Homo sapiens: one gene and its partner. The protein of the gene in region 1 purifies or fractionates together with the protein of each later gene. This does not show direct contact. Each region holds a gene or a part of one and is shown in the gene's direction. Other genes may lie near its edges.

Evidence for each region.
Region 2: the proteins of CIMIP2A (region 1) and ACY3 purify together in Homo sapiens (affinity purification with mass spectrometry; one large-scale study listed by BioGRID and IntAct). This does not show direct contact.

Annotation. Positions count from the first base shown.
Region 1 is NC_000009.12:137,244,790-137,249,203, reverse strand, and holds the start of CIMIP2A (ciliary microtubule inner protein 2A), read left to right. Parts: upstream 1-1,488; coding exon 1,489-1,544; intron 1,545-3,350; coding exon 3,351-3,565; intron 3,566-3,646; coding exon 3,647-3,897; intron 3,898-3,985; coding exon 3,986-4,115; intron 4,116-4,225; coding exon of another isoform or gene 4,226-4,389; exon of another isoform or gene 4,390-4,394; intron 4,395-4,414. UniProt on the Homo sapiens protein: Microtubule inner protein (MIP) part of the dynein-decorated doublet microtubules (DMTs) in flagellum axoneme. Binds to the intra-tubulin interfaces.
Region 2 is NC_000011.10:67,641,916-67,645,062, reverse strand, and holds the end of ACY3 (N-acyl-aromatic-L-amino acid amidohydrolase (carboxylate-forming)), read left to right. Parts: coding exon 1-18; intron 19-193; coding exon 194-303; intron 304-2,123; coding exon 2,124-2,339; 3' UTR 2,340-2,508; downstream 2,509-3,147. UniProt on the Homo sapiens protein: Plays an important role in deacetylating mercapturic acids in kidney proximal tubules. Also acts on N-acetyl-aromatic amino acids.

The DNA of each region.
Region 1 (4,414 bases):
CCCTTATATTTACGGACTGCGGTCTTTTTTTCTTAAAAAGGTCATATTGGCCGGGCACAGTGGCTCACGCCTGTAATCCCAGCACTTTGGGAGGCCGAGGTGGGCGGATCACGAGGTCAGGAGTTCGAGACCATCCTGGCTAACATGGTGAAACCCTGTCTCTACTAAAAATACAAAAAAAAAAACCATATTAGTCTGCATTTTCCATGGAGGTGTTGTTTATATCTTTGTTTTGTGAGAGCTTTTTATGCTGATACCAGATTTGTTCATAGCACTTACTGCAAACTTTTTTCCAGTTTTTTAGTTTGCCTTTTAGTTGTTTTTTTGTTTGTTTGTGAGAAATGGTCTGGTTCTGTTGCCCAGGCTGAAGTGCAGCGGTGCGATCTCAGCTCACTACAGCCTCAACCTCCTAGGCTCTGGCCATCCTCCCACCTCAGCCTCCCAAGTAACTGGGATCACAGGCACATTCACCATGCCTGGCTAATTTTTCTTTCTTTTTTGTAGAGGTGGGGTTTCCCCATGTTGCCCAGCTGGCCTGAACTCCTAGGCTCAAGCAATCTGCACACCTCATCCTGCCTCGGCCTCCGAAAGCACCGCAATTATAGGCATGAGCCACAGTGCCCAGCCTTTCTTCTTTCTTTCTTTTTTTTTTTTTTTTTTTGAGACAGAGTCTCACTCTGTGGCCCAGGCTGGAGTGCAGTGGCACGATCTCAGCTCATTGCAATCTCCACCTCCTGGGTTCACGCCATTCTCCTGCCTCAGCCTCCCGAGTAGCTGGGACTACAGGCGCACGCCACCGCACCTGGCTAATTTTTGTATTTTTAGTAGAGACGGGATTTGACTATGTCAGTCAGGCTGGTCTCGAACTCCTGACATGATCTGCCTGCCTCGGCCTCCCAAAGTGCTGGGATTACAGGTGTGAGCCACCGTGCCTGGCCGCCTTCCTTCATTTTTATGGTTAGGAAGTCCTTCCTGTACAAAAAAAGAACAAAATTCAGGATTTGCTTAAAATGTAAACATAACACCCTGCGCCACATGAAGGGCTGGAGGGAGAGTTCGCACAGCCCTGCAGGCCGGGAAGCCCCTGACTCGAGCCAAGGCTCTGCAGCTGCAAGGCCTCCTGTCAGAGGAGGGGGCCTGGGGACTCCCTTAGCCTCACCCTGAGACTGGGGCTGGTGGCCTCCTGGGGGCAGCAAGAGCCCAGGCCCTTTCTGGAGGGACAGTCCTGTTTTCTGAGCTCTGAAGTTAATGGGACTTCCTCCCGGACCACCTGCCTCACCGCAACTCCTCCCCTGCCTGGCACCTGTCTGGGCCTCAGTGTCTCACCTGTGCAATGTGGGCCCTCACAGGGTTAGCGAGGTGGCCTGGCCCAGGAGGTGCCCACAATGCTGGCCCCTCACAATGGTTGCCCGGTGACAGGACTCCCCTCAGGGAAGGGAGCTGGATGCCGGGAGGGACTGGAGCCAGCAAGGCCAGAGTGAAAGCAAAATGACAACTACTCAGAAACACGATCTCTTCACGCCGGAGCCTCACTATGTCCCTGGGTGAGAGCCGGGAGCTCTGGAGGTGGCTGGGGCCAGGGCTGCAGGAGGGGGAGAATGGCTGGGGCCTGAGGCATGGAGGCCAGCTGTGAGGGGCCCAGAGCTGGACCCCAGGAAACTGAAGGCCACACCACGGGGCACTGCAGTCTGTGGGCTGGGGAGCCCTGGGACAGGGGAAGCTCAGGGATGGGGTTGCCAGGGGCCCAGGCCTCACCCTCCCTGCTGGTGTGCAGCTGCGAACTCGATACCTGGTGGCCAGCACGTCTGTCGAGCAGAAACTGGGTCAGCCAGCAGCCGGCAGAGGCCGGCTAGTAAGTGCCCGACGCCCACTCCAGAGAGGACTCCACACTTCATTTCATTTTATTTATTTATTTTTTGAGACAGAGTTTCGCTCTTATTACCCAGGCTGGAATGCAATGGTGCAATCTTGGCTTACCGCAACCTCTGCCTCCCAGGTTCAAGCGATTCTCCTGTCTCAGCTTCCGGAGTAGCTGGGATTACAGGCATCTGCCACCACACCTGGCTAATTTTGTATTTTTAGTAGGGACGAGGTTTCTTTATGTTGGTCAGGCTGGTCTCGAACTCCTGACCTCAAGTGATCTGCCCACCTCGGCCTCCCAAAGTGCTGGGATGACAGGCTTAAGCCACCACGCCCGGCCAGGACTCCACACTTTAAAGACAAGGCAAGCAAACGCCAGGCTGCCTCACTAGATATCCCCCCAAACAAAAAATAAAAGTAACCCCTCTACGGAACGTGTGTGTGTGTGCACCTACATACACACACGCTACATGCAAAGGGGAAAGGCTGGGAAGAAACCACACCTGCCTCTGAACAGCTACGTCTGGGGAAGGGGCAGGTGAAGCTGAGGCTGGAAGTTGCTCGGCTTTTTTTTTTCTTTTGAGACGGAGTCTCGCTCTGTTGCCCAGGCTGGAGTGCAGTGGGGCGATCTTGGCTCACTGCAAGCTCCGCCTCCTGGGTTCACGCCATTCTCCTGCCTCAGCCTCCCGAGCAGCTGGGACTACAGGGCCCGCCACCAATGCCTGGATAACTTTTTGCATTTTTAATAGAGACAGGGTTTCACCATGTTGGCCAGGATGGTCTTGATCTCCTGACCTCGTGATCCGCCCGCCTCAGCCTCCCAAAGTGCTGGGATGACAGGCGTGAGCCACCGCGCCCGGCCCTTTGGCAGTTTTTAAGACGAAGGTAGTTCTCACTCCTTGAAAGATCACATAGACCCTGAGGCGCTGAACCGCCTGTGACCACCTGCACCATGCCCCTCGAGGTTGAATGAGGGCCCGGAAAAGCCCAGCCCTCCACCTGCCTCCCAGTTCTCTTCCCGTGCAGGAGGCTACTGGCCTCCTGGGGTGGCACAGGTGCAGGCCAAGCCCACGCAACACCCTCCTGGTGGGCCCTGCGTGTGTCCAAGGGTCCGTCCCTCGCCTATGTCCTGGCCCACACGTCTTGTGCCTGTACTTGCTTTGCCAGGGCAGAGCACCCCTGATTTGCTGGCAGTTGGAATGAGGGGTGGGAGAGGGTTGGAGGGGCTGGTACAAGGCAGGCGGCCATCTGCTGTGGTGCTGACGTGTTCCCAGCATGTGGTGTGTGCCGCCTGTTCAGGCTGAGAGAGCTCTAGAAGGCAAGTGCCACTGCAGCCCCATTTACAGGTGAGCAGAGGGCAGGCGAGCTGCCACAGGCCAACCTGCTGCTAAGTGGCCAGCAGGCTGAATCCACATCTGGCTTGAAGGGGCCCTGCCCAGTGCTGGGGCTGCCCTTGAGACCTGCCCTGCCTTCTTCTCTTCCCTCCACAGCTATGCCGGCTTCTTTCCGCAGCTGCGCTACCAGGTGGGGAACACCTATGGGCGTACCACGGGGCAGCTGCTCACAGACCCCAGTGTGCAGAAGAGCCCCTGCTCTGTGCTGTCCCCCATGTCCAAACCCAAGTTCATTGAGGACTTCAGCCAGTCCAAGCCCCCGAGGGTTCCCTGCCAAGACCTGACGGAGCCCTACATCCCCCACTACACCAGTGAGCTGCCAGTCCCCAGCCCTGCACCCTCCTGTGCCCGCCTGCCTGTCCCGGCACTCACAGGCTGCCCTGTTGGTACAGGTCTGAAGCCCTCTAAGAACTTTGAGATTCTGGGCCAGCTCCCACCCTTGGAGGTGGACGCCCAGGAGCCGCCAGGGGTAGAGAACATACCCAGACAGATTCTGCTGCCTGCAGGCTTCACGCCCGACACCCCGCACCCTCCGTGCCCACCAGGCAGGAAGGGAGACTCCAGAGACTTGGGACACCCAGTATACGGGGAAGAGGCCTGGAAGAGCGCCACTCCTGTTTGCGAGGCCCCCAGGCAGCACCAGGCAGCCAGGGGATGCACCAGTGCCAAGCCCATTCCGCTCAGCCCCAGGTGGGAGCTGCACCGTGACCTCCGCTTCCTCCCCGCTCCAGCTGTACCACTGCCAGAGGGATGAGTACCCACCCCCCGCCCGCCGCCAGCAGGAGACGCTAGATGTGGGCAGCTTCCAGCGGCTGCCGCAGCTGGACCACCCTAACCTAATCCAACGCAAGGCCATCTCAGGTGGGTGTGGGCCTGGGCTGGGCTGGAGAAGGCCGCCCCTCCCCACAAGGTTCTTGCAGTGTGAGAGCCCCTGAGGAGGCTGCCACAGGGGCCCACTTTTCCTGCTCCAGAACAGGCTAGCGGCCTGGGGGGACCTCCTCTGCCTCCCAGCTGCTTCCAGGAGCCCAGCTTTTCCCAAGACGAGGCGGTGCCTTGCCTGCCTGTTCCCATTTGGCCACATCAGACAGTCGCCAACGTTCAGGGAACGAAAGGGAGCCTTGCCTGGCTTCCCTGACACGTCTGAGGGCAGGTGGGTGTGC
Region 2 (3,147 bases), on another chromosome or scaffold:
TCGAACTCTTCAACCAGGGTGAGACCCCAGGGGACTTTCGGGAAACAGGTCCGGGGAAGAGCAGGTCTGGCTCAGGGGTTGGGGAGCCAGGCTCACAGGCAGGCTGGGATCTAGCCCTGACGTACCCCCACGGCCCAGTCTGTCCCCTAGCCTGGAGGGAGGGATGGGCTCACACACCCAGCCTCCCACACAGGTACGGCCTTTCCTGCCTTTGAGATGGAAGCCTATAGACCCGTGGGCGTCGTGGACTTCCCCCGCACCGAGGCCGGGCACCTGGCAGGCACTGTGCATCCTCAGCTGCAGGTGTGTGTGTGTGTGTGTGTGTGTGTGGTGGGGGGTGATTTCTGGGGCCACAGCCTTGGGGAGGAGGATTGTCAAGGAAAACTGAGCCCCAGGGGGTGCAGCCAAGCCTCCCACGAGCTCACCAGCATCTCGGGTTGAGGAGCAGGATGGGAGGCTGGGCTCCGCCATCCCACTTCCCCTGGCCCTGCTGCCTTCCCTGGAACCCCACACTCAGGCCTAGCACAAGAGGCCACAGTGATCCCCATAGCTCCTGTGGAGGGCATGATGGAGACAACCCTACCCTGGCTGTAAAAGGCAGAGGGAGGGGACATGGAGCAGGCATGACTCAATTCACCTGCTTGGAGGTGCAAATACAAAACTCTCTTCTGATTTTCAATTGGTTCCTCGAGCATCCCCATGCATGTTGGCAGTATGTCTCTCTGCAGGCCTTCCCTTCCTGAATGTTCCAGGATTAGGCAATCCTGCTTCCACACCTTTCCCTTGGGTGCCTGAGAAGAACGTACTGGCTGCTGCTCTGCTTGCTGCCACAGGGGGTCATTGTTGAATAGGGTCTGGTGCAATCTTGTGGCCTTTTGTGCCCTGAAGTTTCATTTTGAGGAGTTACCTTCTTACAAATGGAGGCAGCACCATCCCGTCCATGTTTAGGGCTAGACAGTCTTAATCCAGCCGTGCCCAGCTACCTTGCAGACGTTCAGTCATAACAGTCAATTTGGGTGGCTCCTCCTACAATTTTAAAATTTATTTTATTTTTTATTATTATTTTTTGAGACAGAATCTTGCTTCATTGCCCAGGCTAGAGTGCAGTGGTGCGATCTCAACTCACTGTGACATCTGCCTCCTGGGTTCAAGCGATTCTCCTGACTCAGCCTCCCCAGTAGCTGGGATTATAGGCACTCACCACCACACCCAGCCAATTTTTGTCTTTTTAGTACAGACAGGGTTTCACCACGTTGGCCAGGCTGGTCTCGAACTCCTGACCTCAAGTGATCTGCCCACCTCAGCCTCCCAAAGTGCTGAGATTACAGGCCACTGAGATTATGAGCCACTGTGCCCAGGCTTAAAATTTATTTATTTATTTATTTGAGACAGAGTCTCGCTCTGTTGCCCAGGCTGGAGTGCAGTGGCATAATATTGGCTTACTGCAACCTCCGCCTCCTGAGTTCAAGCGATTCTCCTGCCTCAGCCTCCCGAATAGCTGGGATTACAGGCGCTCACCACCACACCTGGCTAATTTTTGTATTTTTAGTAGAGATGAAATTTCACCATGTTGGCCAGGCTGGTCTTGAACTCCTGACCTCATGATCCACCCGCCTTGGCCTCCCAAAGTGCTGGGATTACAGGCGTGAGCCACTGCGCCCAGCCAAAATTTATTTAATAAAGAATCATATTGTACTTACCGTGTGCCAGACACTGCTGTAAGCACTATTAACCTGTTTAGTCTAAACTTCAGAATGATAGGAGGAGATATTGTAATCCTTATTTTACAGACAAGAAAGCTGAGAAACAGAGGTTAAGTGACTTGCTCACAGTTACACAGCTAGCAAGAATTTGAACTCCAGCTTCAATACCTGTGCCCGTATCCATGAGGGTCCACTTCCACATGGGCACATGCCACCCCAAGGTGACCTGTGTCTTCATTTCTAGACACAGAGCAGACTGGTATCTCACCAGACCTGCTGTCATATGGATTAAGGAAGTGAAGCATGGGTGGGAAAAGCCATGAATGAGGGGCATCTTTTGGGTGTCAAGCTGGGGTCACCCCCCTCTGGGGCCAGGGCAGAGGTGGCCCCAGCAATCTTGGCCTTTGGCTCTCCTCCCAGGACCGAGACTTCCAGCCACTGCAGCCTGGTGCTCCCATCTTCCAGATGTTCAGTGGGGAGGACCTGCTCTATGAGGGAGAGTCCACGGTGTACCCCGTGTTCATTAACGAGGCTGCCTACTATGAGAAGGGCGTTGCCTTTGTCCAGACTGAGAAGTTCACATTCACCGTGCCTGCCATGCCCGCGCTGACCCCTGCCCCGAGCCCAGCTTCCTAACCCAAGACACACCTCCCCAACCTCAGTCTTCCCATCTGAACGATGGGTCCTGAGGCACAGCTCTGAGCACAGAGGTCCCTTCTGCCACCTACCATGCACCATGTTCCTTGCCAGGCCTCCCCAACCCCTGGCCTCAATTTCCCTTTCTATAAAATGGAAGATGTCCAGAGGTCCATGGTTTGTGTCCTCTGTCCTGCACGGCTCCTCTCTGGCTGGGGAAGTGGATGGAGGAAGGGAGGTTGACCACAGGATCTGGGGGAGGTCTGGCCAGTGCAGCCTTGGACCTGCAAGTGTCTTGGGGCCAGTGGTGGCTGCCTCTGTGCCCACAGCTGTCCATCCATGCCTGGGGGAGGATTCCAGAGTGTGGGAGGAGAACCTGAAGAAGGATTGCTCTGGATCCAGCGGAGGGGCTTCCAGAGGAGGCTACAACCCAGAGGGGGACCCCCCAACCCTCCTATAGTCCTGGGGCCAGACAGTGAGTGTGGGGAGCGCAGAGACAGGCCCATGTCTGTGCACACATGTGTGTTTGTCCGTGCATGGCGCCTGCCCTGGATGCTCTTTGGCGTGCGTGTCTGTGCGTTTCCCACACACACGTGTTTCCAAGAGCCTCAGTTCCTTGGGCGTTCTAAGGGGATCTCTATGTGGCCAGATGTGCATTTTTAAGTGTGTAATGAGCCCGGTGCCCATAGTGGCTCAAGCAGGGAGTCAGGGCTGGGGGAAGGGCCACAGCAGGACAAGGCTGTCCCCATGCAGGACAGCCTGTCCAACTGCAGAGATGCAGGGAGGAGGTGGCTTGGGTTGGGGCACA